4 separate regions of the Homo sapiens genome follow, and all the other regions are linked to region 1. Evidence: fine-mapped QTL for protein levels in blood plasma. Region 1 holds a variant in brackets. A gene starts in each other region. All regions are shown on their reverse strands.

Region 1 (4,000 bases):
AATGGCGTGATCTCGGCTCACTGCCACCTCTGCCTCCCGGGTTCAAGCAATTCTCCTACCTCAGCCTCCCGAGTAGCTGGGATTACAGGCACCCCACCACCACACCTGGCTAATTTTTGTATTTTTAATAGAGATGGGGCTTTGCCACGTTGGCCAGGCTAATTTCGAACTCCTGACCTCAGGTGATCCGCCCGCCTCGGCCTCTGTAGAGAAGAGCTTTTCTTCCATCCATCATTTTTTAGTATTATTGTAGACACATGGAGTCTTTTTTTTTTTTTTTGAGATGGAGTCTCACTCTGTTGCCTAGCTGGAGTGTAATGGTAGAATCTCAGTTCCCTGCAACCTTCACCTCCCAGGTTCGAGTGATTACAGATGTGAGCCACCATGCCCACCCCTTTTTGTGCTCTGTCTAGCCAAGGCTCTTCTCATTGCAAAAACCAACCACACATTCGAGTGAGTTCAAGGAAATTGGGGATATTATAAGGAGGCAACAGGCAAGTCGATCATGTGGGCATTGAAGATGAAGACATGAAATACAACTGATACTCCTGAAGATTGGAACTGAAAGGCAGGAACTATTCCTACTTTTTCCGTATCTCAATGGTCTCTCCCATTTCCGTCTCTCTGCTTATTCATCTTGAACATGGCTTGATATACACCAGACCCTCTCAGTTACAGGATTCATCACCAACTGGCATCTTTCCTGGAGACACTGGTTCCTTTTGAGTTAGGTGTCTACCCTTGATCCCATCAGTGTCATGCATAAGTAAAGAACAACAACAGCCTAGCATTAGAACTCTGCTCAGGTCACTATGGGCTGGACAGTTTAAGCAGAAAGAGGAACTCTGGGGCAGCAGGCAAGATGACAAATAACTAGCATCTTAGGTTACAGTTCCCTAGAAGCAGAGCCTGAGACGGGGATTCGAGTACAGTTGATTTAGTGAATGTCTCAGGAGAAGAAAGAGTGAGGCAGATTTGCGAGGGTAAGGCACCGGTTCTCAAACTTCGCTGTGGATCAGCAACACCTGGAAGGCTTGTTTTAACACAGGATTTTTGAGCTCCACTCTTAGAGTTTCTGATTTGGTAGATCTGGGATGGGGCCTGACAATTTGCATTTATGCCAGGTTCCCTGGTGATGCTAATGCTGCCGAGCCAGGGAGAAATGTGGTCTCTGCTAAAATGAGGTTCAGTTTGATCCCACTGGGAGCTCTGGAGTGTGAATTCCACCCTTGAGTTAATCCCACTAAGAGCCAAGGGGACCTGCTTTTTATATTCCCTCATCAGTCAGTCTTTGGCTTTGAGCTGCTCCCTTCCCTGACCCTGGGGGTGGTTTGCATAAACTCCTGGGAGAGGTGGCTTCCCTATGGCTGAAGGCAATTTTTCAGAGTATTTATGAGCTGTTATCAGCCAACACTCACAATGGCTGGTGGATAGATGCACCTGCTTAATGAATGCAATCTGAGAGGGCAGAGTAGGCTTACATGAAATGTCAATATCTGTTAGTTGCTTTTTTTTTTTTTTTTCACTGAAATGGAGGCTCTGATGCTTCTGTTCTGACCTTCTGTGGCTACTGTAGGGGAAGAGAAGGCCATCTTGGAAGCTATGAATAATGGTTCTATTGACAGAGAACTGCAATTAGCAATCATATTACCATTACTTACTATATATATTCTTGGATTTTTCTTGCCTTGACCAATTTGTGTAGGTGTACTCATCTACTGTTTCAAATGCTATACTCTCTTTCAGAAAGACTTCCTGAACTCTTAAGTCCTGATTACAAGTATTCTCTCTTTCAGCATCTTGTAAAGTACCTGTGAAAAAAGCCACTGTGGTGTACCAAGGAGAGAGAGTAAAGATTCAGGAAAAATTTAAGAATGGAATGCTACATGGTGATAAAGTTTCTTTCTTCTGCAAAAATAAGGAAAAGAAGTGTAGCTATACAGAGGATGCTCAGTGTATAGATGGCACTATCGAAGTCCCCAAA[T/G]GCTTCAAGGGTAAGTCTGCATTGGAACGTTTAGCTAGGACTCCCACTTGCCCGTCATCATAATCAGAGCCTTTGTTCTATAATGATTGTCAAAAACCAGATGAGGCCAGGTGCGGTGGGTCACGCCTGTAATCCCAGCACTTTGGGAGGCTGAGGCGGGTGGATCACCTGAGGTCACGAGTTTGAGAGCAGCCTGGCCAAAAAGGTGAAAGTCTGTCTCTACTAAAAATACAAAAATTAATTGCTGTGGTGCCGGGTGCCTGTAATCGCAGCTACTTGGGAGGCTGAGGCAGGAGCATCACTTGAACCTGGGAGGTGGAGGTTGCAGTGAGCCGAGATCGCGCCATTGCACTCCAGCCTGGGCAACAGAGCGAAACTCCGTCTCAAAACAAAAACAAACAAAACACAGATGAATTTGGCCACTGGGTTTTTAAAAAGAGGGGTGAGAGGGAGAAACAATGATATGAAGCAGTGAGCTGCAGATGGCGTCCCCACTTGCATTTTCCTTTCCAATTTTTTTTTTTTTTGAGACAAGGTCTCACTGTCACCCAGGCTGAAGTGCAGTGTTGCGATCACATCTCATTGCAGCCTCTACTTTCTGGGCTCAAGTGACCCTTTCACCTCAGCCTTCTGAGTAGCTGAGATTACATGCACGCACCACCATGTCCAGCTATTTTTTATATTTTTATTAGAGAAGAGATTATGCCATGTTGCCAAGGCTGGTTTTGAACCCTTGGACTCAAGCAATCCACCTGTCTCAGTCTCCCAAAGTGCCAGGATTACAGGCATGAGCTACGCGCCCAGCCTCTTTTCTAAGTCTTTTCTGTAAAACTCAGGGTTGTGGTTATATTCAATGAATGCTGAGGTGAATGATGCCATCTTGTATAATTCCAAGTTGAGCTTGAATAATAATGAACCAAATATTGAATAATAAAATATCTACCTCATCTTGGTCCCACATTATAGAGAACTCACCCCAAGTGACAAAACAACTCATGGCAATGATAATTGGTCTAAAGATCTAACATTTCCCCTTTCTCAAGCAATTCGTAGAGTTTGAAAAGTATCCATTAGAGCAAAGTATCCATTAGAGCAAAATATTTTAAGGAGAATGATACCAGGTTTGTGTGAGATAAAGAAGTGTGTAATGGCCAGCGTTTAGAGCTGCTAACCTTTTAAGGTTTCAGATTTAGGGTTGAAATGTCTCTGATGCCAGAAAGTAAGAACCAGCCAGAGGCTGAAGCTGTCCTTGGCTCTAGGTTTAGAAATCTTTCAAAAACATTGACAATCTTGTTTTAGCAGGTGGGAGAGGACAGTAGGGAGCAGACAAAGCTAAGAAGAGAGGAGTCTGAGAAGTGTCCAGCTAGTGGGAGAGAAGGGAATGATAACTGATTAAAAATACCCACCTCATGGGGTTGGTTTGATTATTAGAAATATGCATGACATGGAGGAATATAATTTTAATTGTAAATAGTTACAAATGCACTGAATAAATTGCCATTATTCAAAAGACAGCAGAGCCCTGGTGAGATGTTAAATACAAAACATGACAAAATACAATAAGCTTAAATAAAAATCAGTAGAAAAAATGTGAGAAAAGAATAATTGAAAAAAGTCTTAGCTTTGTTGATATATTTCTTCAGGATCTTCTCCCTTATGGTCTTTGGACAGATGCAGTACTGTAAAGGGCCGATACTGTTTTTTCCCCTTTAATCTTGACTGTTATAGAACAGTCTTCACTGTATATAGAACCTTTAATTTTATCTCTTGAAAATGAGGATCTTGGCCAGGCGCAGTGGCTCACACTTGTAATCCCAGCACTTTGGGAGGCCAAGGCGGGCGGATCACTTGAGGTCAGGAGGCCAGCCTGGCCAACATGGTGAAACCCAGTCTCTACTAAAAATACAAAGATTAGCCAGGCATGGTGGCACGTGCCTGTAGTCCCAGCTACTCGGGAGGCTGAGACAGGAGAATCACTTGAACCTGGGAGGTAGAGGTTGCAGTGAGCTGAGATTG
Region 2 (4,237 bases), not on the chromosome of region 1:
GAGACAGGCAGATCTCTTGAGGTCAGGAGTTCAAGACCAGCCTGTCCAATATGGTGAAACCCTGCCTCTACTAAAAATACAAAAATTAGGCAGGCGTGGTGGCATGCACCTGTAATCCCAGCTACTCTGGAGGCTGAGGCAGGAGAATTGCTTGAACCTGGGAGGCGGAGGTTGCAGTGAGCCAAGATCGTGCCACTGCACTCCAGCCTGGGCAACAGAGTAAGATCCATCAAAAAACAAACAAACAAAAAACCCCATGTCCTCAGCAAACCCCTCCCTATGCACCTCCCATTTCCCTCAGCTCATTACACACTCAATTATTTTAAGGGCTCTCTCCCTGGCTCAGTTGTGAACTCCATAAGGAAATGGGTCATGTTTATTTTGCTCACTGAAAAATCCCCTATTACTTATTGCTTGTTGATTCTCCCACTCAACAAATATTTATTAAGCAACAGATTTGTCAGGCACTGGGTTTAAGCAGTGAAACAAGACCGAAAAGATTTCCGCCTTCACGGGAAGGGGAGAAGACACAGAAAACGAATAAGAATTTCAAGGCCAATCATGGTGGCGCATGCCTGTAATCCTAGCACCTTGGGAGGCCAAGGCAGGAGGATTGCTTGAGGCCAGGAGTTCAAGGCTGCAGTAAGCTAGGATTGCACCACTGCATTCCTGCCTGGGTGACAGCAAGATTCTGTCAAAAGGAAAAAAAAAGAAAGAAAAGAAAAAAAAAAAACAAACAATTGCAGGTAGTGGGGTAAACATGCTATGAAAATGAGAGAGAAGGGGCCAGGCGCAGTGGCTCAGGCCTGTAATCCCAGCACTTTGGGAGGCCAAGGCCGGTGGATCACCTGAGGTCAGGAGTTTGAGACCGGCCAGGCCAACATGGTGAAATCCTGTCTCTACTAAAAATACAGAAAATTAGCTGGGTGTGCTGGCGCATGCCTGTAATCCAAGTTACTTGGGAGGTTGAGGCAGGAGAATCACTTGAACCCAGGCAGGTGATGTTGCAGTGAACTGAGATCTGGCCATTGCACTCCAGCCTGGGCAACAGAGAAAAACTCCATCTAAAAAAAAAAAAAAAAAAAAAAAAAAAAAAAAAAAAAAAAAAACAGAGAGAGAGAGAGAGAGAAGGAAACGGAACTGGGGGGAGGATTTGCAAAAATATGGTTAGGGATGGCACTTCAGAGATGAAGCCATCCTGGAGTGTTACGGGCAAGGGAAATGCTGGGGCAAAGGCCCAGAGGCAGGAATAGGTTTGGCCTGTTGCATGAACAGTGGGTCCAGCTCCTAGCAAACTGTTTATTGAATGAAAGAAGAATGAATGCCTTGGGTCTAGGGTTGTGCTGGGCGCTTTCTTAAGTTTTCTTTCCCGGGTACCTCCCCAGAACTGGCATGCAGGTATTATTAAACCCATTACACAAGTGAAACTGGCCCAGAGACAGAAAAGTCCCTGGTCCAAGACCACACAGGAGTGAGGGGTGGAGGAACCCTCCTCCCATTGAGTTCTGGCTTTCCTATACTGAAAGCCCCTTCCTCTCCTGCAGTAAGGTAGGTGGAACCGCTGTCCCGCCTTGTTGGTGAATGTCGTTGCTAGACTTCAGACACATACAGGCTGGTCTGCTGAAAATCAGAGATGTCCACCTGCGCCCTATTCGAGGTCTCCGGCGTCTTCTTTGGCGTCGTCTTTGCCCTTTCAGAAGCGTCTGCACATTTTTCCAGGTGTCATTTCTCCAACTTGAACACAGGGAGCGCACTGGGCACGCGGGCACGTGGCTGTCCCCAGGGGCCTGGCTTGGGTCTCGCCCCTGGGCCGGGGCGCACTCGCGGGCGGGACATCTGGGGGCGCCCACGCGCTCTGGGACGAGTGTCGCTGGCCAGGCCCGGACTGAGGAAAGGCGAGTGAGACACTACTCGCCTGGGGTGCAAAATTTAAGGGAGTGAAAAAAAAAAAAAAAGAAAGAAACCAAAACCACCTCGAGTCACCAAAATAAACATTTTAATGCAGTATTTTTTAAAAAATCAACAGGAATCCTCCAAAGCCCACTATGAACAAAATAGCAAAATGGTAGAGAAAGGATCTGTGCCGCTGCGTCGGGCCTGTGGGGCGCCTCCGGGGGTCTGAAACTGGAGGAGACTCGGGGCTGTAGGGCGCGCGGATCTGGGGCGCGCCCTCGGTCCCGGCGCGCCCAGGGCCTCCCGCGCGGGGCCCGGCACAGGGAGGCGGGGAGGCGGGCGGGGCGGGGCGGGGCCGGGCGGCACCTCCCTCCCCTGCAAGCTTTCCCTCCCTCTCCTGGGCCTCTCCCGGGCGCAGAGTCCCTTCCTAGGCCAGATCCGCGCCGCCTTTTCCCGCGGCCCGCACGGGGCCCAGCTGACGGGCCGCGTTGTTTACGGGCCCGAGCAGCCCTCTCTCCCGCCGCCCGCCCGCCACCCGCCAGCCCAGGTGCCCGCCCGCCAGTCAGCTAGTCCGTCGGTCCGCGCGTCCCTCTGTCCCGGAGCCCGCAGATCGCGACCCAGAGCGCGCGGGGCCGAGAGCCGAGAGACAGTCCCGGGCGCAGCGCGGAGCTCCGGGCCCCGAGATCCTGGGACGGGGCCCGGGCCGCAGCGGCCGGGGGGTCGGGGCCACCACCGCAAGGGCCTCCGCTCAGTATTTGTAGCTGGCGAAGCCGCGCGCGCCCTTCCCGGGGCTGCCTCTGGGCCCTCCCCGGCAGGGGGGCTGCGGCCCGCGGGTCGCGGGCGTGGAAGAGAAGGACGCGCGGCCCCCAGCGCCTCTTGGGTGGCCGCCTCGGAGCATGACCCCCGCGGGCCAGCGCCGCGCGCTCTGATCCGAGGAGACCCCGCGCTCCCGCAGCCATGGCCACCGGGGGCCGGCGGGGGGCGGCGGCCGCGCCGCTGCTGGTGGCGGTGGCCGCGCTGCTACTGGGCGCCGCGGGCCACCTGTACCCCGGAGAGGGTGAGTCTGGGGGCGCGGGCGTGGGCGGGGAGCGCCGCGATGGGGAGAGGACCCCACCCAAGCCAAAATCGAGCCCCCGCTTGTGGACTGAGAACCCTCCCCAGGGGCGGGGGGCGGTGGCCAGGACGGTAGCTCCTGCATCGCGTAGGGGGAGCGGGAAGCCTCTGACCTTGGCCTTTGCCCGCCCGGGCTCGCGCCTCCGCGCCCTGCGTGCCCGACCTGAGCCCGAGGAACCTTGCCCCGGTGCCCGCCCCGCCGCGGGCTCCTCTCTGGAGCGCGCCTCCGACCCGTGCCCCGGCCCCTCCGAGCCCAAGTCGCTCCGGAGACACGACACGCGTCATCTTTGGGTCGCGGCCGGGAAGTGGGGTCACTGGGTCTGGACAGCCCCGAACAGCCAAGTCCCCCGAGCGCATATGGTGTAGGTAGAGCCAAGCGCCCTGAGTGCCTCACCGGTGGGTGACGCTGCCTGGGGTCAGGGACTGCAGAGCCCCCCTCTACCCAACTACCTTGGATCTAGGCCCGTGGCCACCCCGGACTCTAGGTCCATGTTTACCCTTTTGGGTTCTGTTTCCAGATGTCCGGAGGCAAATTCTAAAGCCTTAGCAACAGCAGCAATTGTAGCAGAAGTAGTGGCGGTTTTTTACCCTATTTATTGTAATTGGTATCACCGCACGCCACAGCCTAGTCTATCTTATCTCTCTGGACTGTCACAGTGGCCCCCGGAGGCAGATACAGTTATGCACCCATTTCACAGAGGAGTAAACTGAGGCTCATGTAGGACGCATAACTCCCTTGCCCTAAAGTCAGTGCCAGAGCCAGGACTTGAGCCTCTGTGTGTCCCGTTCTGCCCAAGAATCTGGACTACTGTCCCTTGTCTGCTGTCTCCTTGACCCCTCCTCTCCCCTCAGCCCTGCGCTTCATGAAGGAGCCTTTGACCTTGAGTGAGCCTTTCGTTCCCCCTGACCCCATGGGCCCCTCTCCCACGTGTGGGCAGCATCTTCCTTGGGCTTGACAATAGGCACCTTTGGGGTTGTAAGATGAAGATGGCGCAATCATTTAAGGAATATAGCCTGGGTTTCCCACTGTGGGGTCTGAGGCCCTGCTTTAAAAATATCTGTTGGGTTACTGTTTCAGATTTCTCCATAAAAGGAAATCAGTCGTGATGAGGAAGGGGTCAGGGAGGGAAGGAATTGAAGCTCTTAAATGTATTGATGGGGAAACGGGTGCATGTAAAATCAGGTGCTAGAGTGGACCAACCGGGTTTGCTGAGTCGACTCTGTCAATCAC
Region 3 (4,262 bases), not on the chromosome of region 1:
GTGTTGCCTAATATAACCCTCATGATCATCGTCCTCTGTCTGAAATATTTTCTGGAACTTGGTGGGGTTCAAATGGATAAATCATCCCAGTGCTGGGGTTTAAGTTCATGATTTATGCTCATGGCTTCTGTGAATAGGCATTTCTGAGGGCATTATGAGTGTAGATGCTGGTTACTATGTGGGTAGCTCTAGGTTTGTGAATGTTTGTACATCCTTGGGTTTGTGAGTCCATGAGAGGGCATGTGTCTGGGAGTCTGCATGGGTATGAGGATATGTATTCATAAGCAGGTACTGGGATTTCAGTTTTTGAAAACATCCGTATGTATCTGTAGTTCCATGTGTAAATGTGTGTGACTAGGCATGTCTGTGAGCATATATAACTCAAGGACTCTGTTGCAGAATATATTACACACACACACATGAATGAATGCTTAAATGCATACTTTTATATTCCTGTGGGTTTTTTGGTGTTTGAATCTATATATGAGAGTGCAAAATTAAGTGTCTGTGTGTGTGCATGTGCCTCTGTATATAGATCTGCGATATGCTAGCTTCTGTGTATATGTGAGCATATATAAGAACACATCTGAGCATGTGACGGTACACATATCTGCGAGCATAGAACCCTCACCTTCTGTAGAGTTTCTTTTGACCTCGCTGTCACCACCACATGGGCTCCCATCTTCGCCAGATGATAAGCCATCTCTCTTCCGATCCCTTTGCTGGCCCCTGTGACAATCACTTTCTTTCCTTGGAGCATCTCTGGGGAACCCCAAAAGGAAGTGAGGACCATACCCAAGTTGGCAGCAAAATTCCTTCTCCCTCTCTGGATATAGGCATGCTTATCGCAATTTGTAACTTAAAGGTTATGAGCCCAGATCAGTTTGTCACAAACTCCGTAAATCACTGTGGGAACAGGCCAGGTCTTTCATAAACATGCTCTGAAGTGGGAGGTTTGGGCTGACAGCCTCCCTACTGTCATTTCTAAAAACCTCCATGGAAAGAGATCATAGGATGAAGCCAGAAAAGTCATGGTTCAGCTAAAATGCTGGAGTTCCAGACATTTCTGGACTCTTTCAATTTTGCTCAATTGAAAGTACATTTAACAAGGAATCAAAACACATGTGTTCATAGAAATTCCAGGGATTTTCCCTCACTTCTATGTAGTCATCATCTCCAGTTTTTTTTTTTTTTTTTTTTGCCTCCCACTTATCAGTCTCTTCATAGAGCCCAATTAGCTGCTGAGTTGTGAATTTGGGTATTACTCTCATTTTTGTAGAAGATTTGAAACTGCTTTCCATTAAGGGTGCCAAATAAAGCATGGCCTATTTGGCTAGATTTTGGCTACACGATTACCCTTCCTACACAGTCCCCCCTGTCCACAGCCTGTAGCTGGAGGACACAAAAATACCATCTTAACTCAGGGTTCCCTCATTTTCACCAACTTTGAGGATCAAGAACACATCTTGGTCCTCAGGAACACTCAAGCACCCCTGTGTTTTTTAAACCTATTCCTCCAAAATGAGACGCATGGGTACTTACCTGGTCTGAATTCCTCGTTTGCAGAATAGTAGTAGTAGGCCATGAAGAGCCCCAGAATGGGGAGGAGATATTTTTTCATAAAAGCCATCCGACAGGGAGCTGGCCTGAAGACTCCTGTAGGACACACAGAGAGAACCTACAGAGCTTTCTACAACCTCCTAAGCAGGCAGCAGCCTCTGAATTGTGACATCAGGGACGGGGGAGGCTGGAGTAGTCTCAGGCAGTGCTAGCCAATTTCCCTGTCAGAGCAGCGATTGGCTTTGGGTGGGATCCCATTCGTCCCTGGCAGCCTGTGTGGTGGATTTCATAATGGACAATGTTTACTCCATTTCATTGAGCAAGAGGAGACTTCCAGATGGCCAAGCTCATGACTGTACAGGACTGGATTCCTGAGCATCCCTACCCGAGTCCATCTTACTCTTAACACCATTTACGCCAGGGATCAATGATCTTTCAAAAGTAATTTGTCAAAGACAGAGAGAGAGGAGTGCATGTAGGGCTTCTGGGGGGAAATGTGAGTAATAGCAAAGAGAGCCAAACTCAAGCCAAATCTCACTCTCAGTCCCCCTACCCCCCCACCCAGTGGGAAGCAATTAAAAATAACAGCACAAAACAGCAAAATAAGCTTAAGAAAAAAAATGTGCACATTTTGGGAAAAAATAATGAAAGCAAAGAAGCTCTATAAGCCCCACACTCAAGTTCAATGAAAAAGTATTACAACATCAAAGGAGAAATTGCAAGCCAGCCAGAACCCAGATGGCGGGAAATCCAAGACTGGTTCAAGACTCTAAGGCAAGTGCAATGGATCATACACTTATTATTTTAACAGAGAACAAAGAAGAAATAATGAGTGACAAAAAAGGCACTAAACTATTAAACTGGGTCTTGTAAATGCTGTAGAGCAACAAGAAACATGGAGAAGATGCTAGGAAGAGGCGACCTGATGTAGAAGAAAAAAGAACTAGCATTAGGCAAGTGAAACTAGCTGGGGACGCCCACACCAGCTAAAAATAGATCTAGTAACAGTAAAAGGACGAGGGTGGTAAGAAACCCTTAGCAATTTAGAATTTATTATCAGGGAAATATAAAAATAACCACCTCAGTATGTCCGTAGCACGAATTCATTAAGGAATAATCCTCAAAGAAAGAATTTAAGATGTATCATTGTTAAGTTTTTCAACTCAAAACCAACCAATCAACTCATGGAAATTACCCCATCACAATGCAGTCCTGCATTCTGTAAGTTATCAGTAGAGCGGGGAAAAAATTTAAATGTGATAATAAGTATCAGTGCTTTGGAGGAGGGATAGGAGTTGGGAGTAGTGGGGGGACAGAATTTACACAAGGTTAAGGGAAATTAAGTTATGATTCCAAGTGCAGTATCTGGAAACATTCATCAAATTTTCACTTTAGAGTAAGAGAAAATAATTTAAGACCCAGAGGAGATGAAACAATTTGTCAACAAAGGCCCACAGCTGTGAGGGTCACTTGTAGAAAACAATGGAGATTTGAGAACAGTTGAGGGCTAGACAGAGCTCGAGGTCTATGAAGGACAAAAAGAGAAAAAAGATAAAATTCAAGTAAAAATTAGATTACATGCCTTTAGAACTGCAAGCTACATTTGTATAATTTTATAAATATATTTATGATACCAGGATATATTACAGACTACACTCCATTTTCATCCCTAGAGGGAAGGCAGTGCCAGCCAGAACCCAGATAAGGTTTATTTTCTTAATCCTATACTATTAATAGTAAAATTATAGGAAACAATGAAAAGTTATTTGGAAATATGATGATGTTGAAATGATAGAAAGATGGGCAGACTAGGGATGTTTATTGTCTGACATAAAAAATAAATAAAGAATTTTAAAGTCCATTAAGAAAACATAAATTTAAAGAAAGCAAAAATAACAATGAGTAAGATAAACTGCAGAGTAATAGAACACAAAGCAAATGCATTAACAATTGCTGATTGTTGGCTCCATTAAAAAATGAAGTCCAACATTGTGTGGCCTCAAAAGACACATTTAAACCCAAAGACACAAACAGATTAATAATTAGATGACCTAATAGCTACGATGCTAGAAAATAAGGATATGGCAAAAGCATCCAATAAAGTGAGTTTCATGGGATTAGATAAAATAATTGCTATATAAAATGCATTGATGAGAAACAAGGACACTGTGTAATGGTAGTTGATGCATTAAATCTTACCAGTTCTCAAATTTTTGGTCTCAGGACCCTTGTATACTCTTAATAATTTCCAAGGACCTCAAAGAACTTTTGCCTGTGTAGGTTTTACCTATTGATATTGCTATTGCAATTTATGCATTAGAAATTAAGACTGAGGATTTTTTTCTAAAGCTCAAGAATACATAAGCATACATTCCATTAGCATTCAGGGCAGTGGCATTAGCATACATCCTGTAGCCTCTGGAAAAGTCAGGTAATGTCTTAGTATAATTATGAAAATAGTTTTGACCTTTCAACCCTTCAAGAGGGTCTCAGAGACCCATGGGGACCACACTTTGACCATATTATATAATAAACATCTAATCCACTTTGTGTCCATATTTACATGGCTGGTTCTCTCATTAGCTTGTAAACTCCTGGAGGACATAGATTATGTCTTTTTCATCTTTGTCTCTTTCCATTTCCCACTAGCCTTGCTCCAAAATAGGCATTCAATAAACTTGCTGTTTTAGTGTTTTTGAGAT
Region 4 (4,000 bases), not on the chromosome of region 1:
AGGACACACATGAATCAATGTAGATGCCTCAATATAAATCACTCATTAGCAACACATACAATCGAGCAACTCCTGAGACAAAATGCCTGGATGAAAATCATAACACCAGTTTTTTTTTAATATAATTTTTCTTCTACAGTGTTCCATGCATAGTCGTTTTACTCAGCCTGTGAGATGATAAAACAACCAAATGCAAAGAGGAGAAAATGATCTTGGGGCATAACATACACACACACACACACGCTTAAACTCTAACAAACAAAATAATTTGTGTGGAATCTGGCTTCTCATCTGTAAGGCCAAGAAAATCAATGCCACCTCATAGTCCTTGTCACACAAGTGTCTGTTGTTAGCCTTATGCTTCCCCCCAAATCTGCCTATGCCTGTGCTACCTGGGCCACCCTCCCCACTTATCCCAGATGCCAGGTCCCTAGAGTCCTTTCAACTTGGCTCAGTATTTGCCTTCTCAAGGAAGCTCTCCAACTGCAACAGCCCCAAATGGCACATGCCTATGTCCAAGCCCGTCTCCATCACTCTGCAGGTGTTTCCATCACTCCTGGACTAGCTCCCACTCTCTGGTGAGGTCCCTGAAGGCAGGGACCCTGCCTTTTCTTTTTTTTCTTTTTTTTTTTTGAGATAGAGTCTCACTCTGTCGCCCAGGCTGGAGTGCAGTGGCACAATCTCTGCTCACTGCAACCTCTGCCTCCCAGGTTCAAGGGATTCTCCTGCCTCAGCCTCCCGAGTAGCTGGGATTACAGATGCATGCCACCATGCCTGGCTAATTTTCTGTATTTTTAGTAGAGACGGGGTTTCACCATGTTAGCCAGGATGGTCTCGATCTCCTGACCTCATGATCCGCCCACCTCAGCCTCCCAAGTGCTGGGATTTAGACCCTGCCTTTTCAATCCACATTCCTAGGCCTTAGCCTTAGTTCTCAGCCTTTGGATGTATATTTGTGCAGGGAGAGGGAAAACACTGTCCCCAGAACCTGCACAAACCCAATTCCCCAAATTTACCCCTCCTAGCCCATCCAAGGCCCTGAGGTTGAGAGGTGTGCTCCCAATAGCAGCACTGTGTATGACACAAAATCAGTATTTGCAAAGGGTCTTGAGAATGAAGCAAGGGAAGTCAGTGAAATGAATACAATAATCTTGGATCTCTGTATCTGGCTGCAATTGACACCTCATTAATTTGTCTGATAACTGCGATGCAAGGTGCTGGGCATTTTAACTTCCCAAGGCTGGGCAGAAAAAAGACAAAGGCTCTGGAATCAGAAAAACTGTAGGTGTGGATCTGGGATCTACTACTTAGTAGCTGGATACTCTTGGGTAAATGACGGAATTCCTCCTCCCTTTTATTAAAGCATAATAATAGTTCCTATTTCATGTGGCCCTTAGGAGGATTAAGTGAAAATAAGATATCTAAAAATTTTCTACAGTGTCAGGCACACAGTAAGCACTTAAAAAATGACAACTATTGTTATCATTTATTTCAGTCGTTCTCACCTCTCCAGAAAATAATTGGGGATGTCTTAATTTCTAAAACTATACTTTCAGAGAAAGACAGGATGCTGTCTCATCAATTATTCACACGTATTCACACACACACTATCTCTCTCTCTCTCTTAATTGATCTTGTTTTGAGAATCCCTCCCCGGATGGTGGTCTTCCCTTCCTCTGGGGGGTGGGGAGGGGATGCGGGTGGCAGCGGAGCCCACCCTTACCTTCAGAGAGGCGTCCCCGAGGCTGGGGCGGGGGCGGCAGCTCCTCCTTCACGCCAGGTCGCGACTGCGGAGGCCAAGTTCAGAAAGTAGGTGAGAAGCAGCGATCTCCGCCTCCTGACTACCGTGGAAAGTGAAAGAGAGGTGTGATTAAAGAGATAAGGCACCCAGAGAGGGCTACAAAAAAAAAAAAAAAGAAGAAGAAGGAAAAAAAGTAGGAACAGAAAGAAGAATGTCAGGCGTCTGGCAGCTCCTGGCTGCTAACCCCGGCCGGTGGAGGCTGCAGGTGGGCACTGCCCGCGGTCGGGCGAAGCTCCGGGTCCGGGAGTGTAGCGGTCTGGGGCGCTCTCAGTCTGGGGCGCTCCCTGGCGTAGAATCCTCCCTGACTCGGAGGTCCCGGTCTGGGGACCCTCCGGTCCGGGTGCTCCTCGCAGCCGTGCTCCAGGACCGGCTCCTCCACCCAGACGCCCCGCGTGGAGTTACCGGAGCTACTGGATCGCGGGGTCCAAAGGTTGCTGCTGGAAAACCCAGCGCCTTGCCCTTTTCCCGCGGACGGCGTGGGCCCCAGGCGTCTGGCGCTTCCTGCCCAGCCGCGCGGCGCGGGTCCCGGGAAAACCCGGGCTGTAGCCGGGTGACCTGCGGGGCCGGAAGGGGGCGCGCCCGGGCCGCTCGCAAGCACCCTGCAGGCCGCGGTTCACAGCAGAGGATGCCAGGAGGGAGGACCGCTGGCCGCAGCGGCCGCCCGGCTCTTCAGAGGAAGAGGAGGGGAGGGCTGAGGGTGGAAGAGGGGTCCCCGGGGGATGCCGAAGGTGAGAGGGGCTCCGCGTCTCAAGTACACAAATGCGCCCCAGGCTTTTTGCTTTCCCAGAAGGATGGGAGTTCACTATAGGGAAGTAATAGAGAGGGGTGCAATTGTTGAAGTTTTAATTTTTTTTAAGGAGGCCAAAGGGGAATGTGTGTTTCTAGATTTTTATTTTGTGGCAGAACTGTTATTTAACCAAAGGAAAAGGGAAACCCATAGCCGACAGGCAAAATGTTCAATTGGACAATGATTTTAATTCTTTTTACCCAATTTAGATAATTCACCACATAATAAATAAAAATATGTAATTATCTCAATAAATGCAAATAAAAGCATCTGGCAAAATTCAACACCCTTTCTGAATTAATAACGATCAGAAAACCGAGAGTAGAAATGATCTTTCTTAATCTGATAAAGAACATCTATAAGAAACCTACAGGTGACCTCATAATAGTGAAACATTTTACTTTTTCCTAAGATTAGTAATGAGATAAGGATTTTGGCTCCCACCTGGGACAACTGCTTTGCAACAAGTGAAGAAATAAAAATAAAATTAGAAAGCATAAAGATTGAGAAGAAAGAATTAAAACTACTGGTTTTAACAGAGAGCATAATTATATGTAGACCAACTTTTGAAATCTACAAAAAAAAAAACTACTGGAAATATTAAGTTTATCAAGATCATGGAATATAAAAATCAATAGCAATTCTATATATTAGAGATGGAAACTTGAAAAGTGAAGTTTGTTAAAAATGCCATTTACCATAGCATTTAAAAATCAAAATACCAAAGTATAAATTCATTGGATAATATATGAGATATCTCCTGTGAAAACTACAAAATATTGCTAACAGAGATGAAACATCTAAGTAATAAAGGGATATACCACGTTTACGGATTGGAAGACTTAAGACATCTATTCTCCACACTGTATATTTTTAGACTCTATATATTACAGAATCTATATATTTAATACAATTCAATCCAAATCCCAGGAAAATTTTTCAAAGAAATTAAGAAGCTGTTTCTAAAATTCATATGAAAATGCAAATAATCTAGGATTGTCCGGACAGAGACGGAGTTTTGCTCTTCTTGCCCAGGCTGGAGTGAGTGCAATGACGCGATCTCGGCTCACTGCAACCTCCGCCTCCCGGGTTCAAGCGATTCTCCTGCCTCAGCCGCCCGAGTAGCTGGGATTACAGGCATGCACTATCACGCCTGGCTACTTTTGTATTTTTAGTAGAGACAGGGTTTCTCCGTGTTGGTCAGGCTGGTTTTGAACTCTCGACCTCAGGTGATCCACCCATTTCAGCCTCCCAAAGTGTTGAAATTACAGGGGTGAGCCACCTGCCCGGCCTGTCTGGGCAATCTTGACAAAGATGAACAAAGTTGAGAGACTTATACTGACTTGAGGATTTATAATAAGGCAATAGTAATTATGGCAATGTGATATTCACAGAAACATACAAACATACAA

Which allele goes with the higher level. Alleles are on the strand shown, and positions count from the first base shown. The strength of an association depends on the size of the effect and on how common the allele is.
For the plasma level of the protein whose gene starts at base 2,328 in region 2, T is the low allele of the variant in region 1 and G is the other (weak association).
In carriers of allele T in region 1, the plasma level of the protein whose gene starts at base 1,727 in region 3 tends to be lower than with G alone (moderate association).
With allele T in place of G in region 1, the plasma level of the protein whose gene starts at base 2,328 in region 4 is lower (moderate association).

The links. A credible set is the group of variants that fine-mapping cannot tell apart. PIP is the chance, under the fine-mapping model, that this variant and not a neighbour inherited with it causes the effect. The UK Biobank Pharma Proteomics Project read protein levels with antibody pairs (Olink). The fine-mapping took linkage between variants from a reference panel, not from the people measured, so its PIPs are less certain.
Region 2: it holds the start of INSR, and the variant in region 1 is the best candidate, but not a certain one, in a credible set for the plasma level of the INSR protein (UK Biobank, PIP 0.53).
Region 3: HSD11B1 starts here. The variant in region 1 is the best candidate, but not a certain one, in a credible set for the plasma level of the HSD11B1 protein (UK Biobank, PIP 0.90).
Region 4: it holds the start of IL18R1, and the variant in region 1 is the best candidate, but not a certain one, in a credible set for the plasma level of the IL18R1 protein (UK Biobank, PIP 0.59).

The regions. Positions count from the first base shown.
Region 1 is chr17:66,212,447-66,216,446 of GRCh38, reverse strand. APOH (apolipoprotein H) reads left to right here. Exons shown (of 8, transcript NM_000042.3): 7 at 1,797-1,994. Among named protein-coding and RNA genes, the nearest start is that of APOH, 15 kb to the left of the region's middle. The variant T/G (reference allele first, on the strand shown) is at 1,985.
Region 2 is chr19:7,292,505-7,296,741 of GRCh38, reverse strand. It overlaps INSR (insulin receptor), which reads left to right and starts at 2,328. Exons shown (of 22, transcript NM_000208.4): 1 at 2,328-2,950. The coding sequence starts at 2,851. RefSeq lists silencers at 1,747-1,926, 2,067-2,456, 2,477-2,756, 2,897-3,036, 3,087-3,146 and an enhancer at 3,128-3,886.
Region 3 is chr1:209,702,311-209,706,572 of GRCh38, reverse strand. It overlaps HSD11B1 (hydroxysteroid 11-beta dehydrogenase 1), which reads right to left and starts at 1,727. Exons shown (of 6, transcript NM_005525.4): 1 at 1,543-1,727; 2 at 632-762. The coding sequence starts at 1,630. All of the region lies in intron 1 of HSD11B1-AS1 (HSD11B1 antisense RNA 1), which reads left to right.
Region 4 is chr2:102,354,124-102,358,123 of GRCh38, reverse strand. It overlaps IL18R1 (interleukin 18 receptor 1), which reads right to left and starts at 2,328. Exons shown (of 11, transcript NM_003855.5): 1 at 1,724-2,328. RefSeq lists silencers at 2,274-2,333, 2,354-2,463 and an enhancer at 2,058-2,559.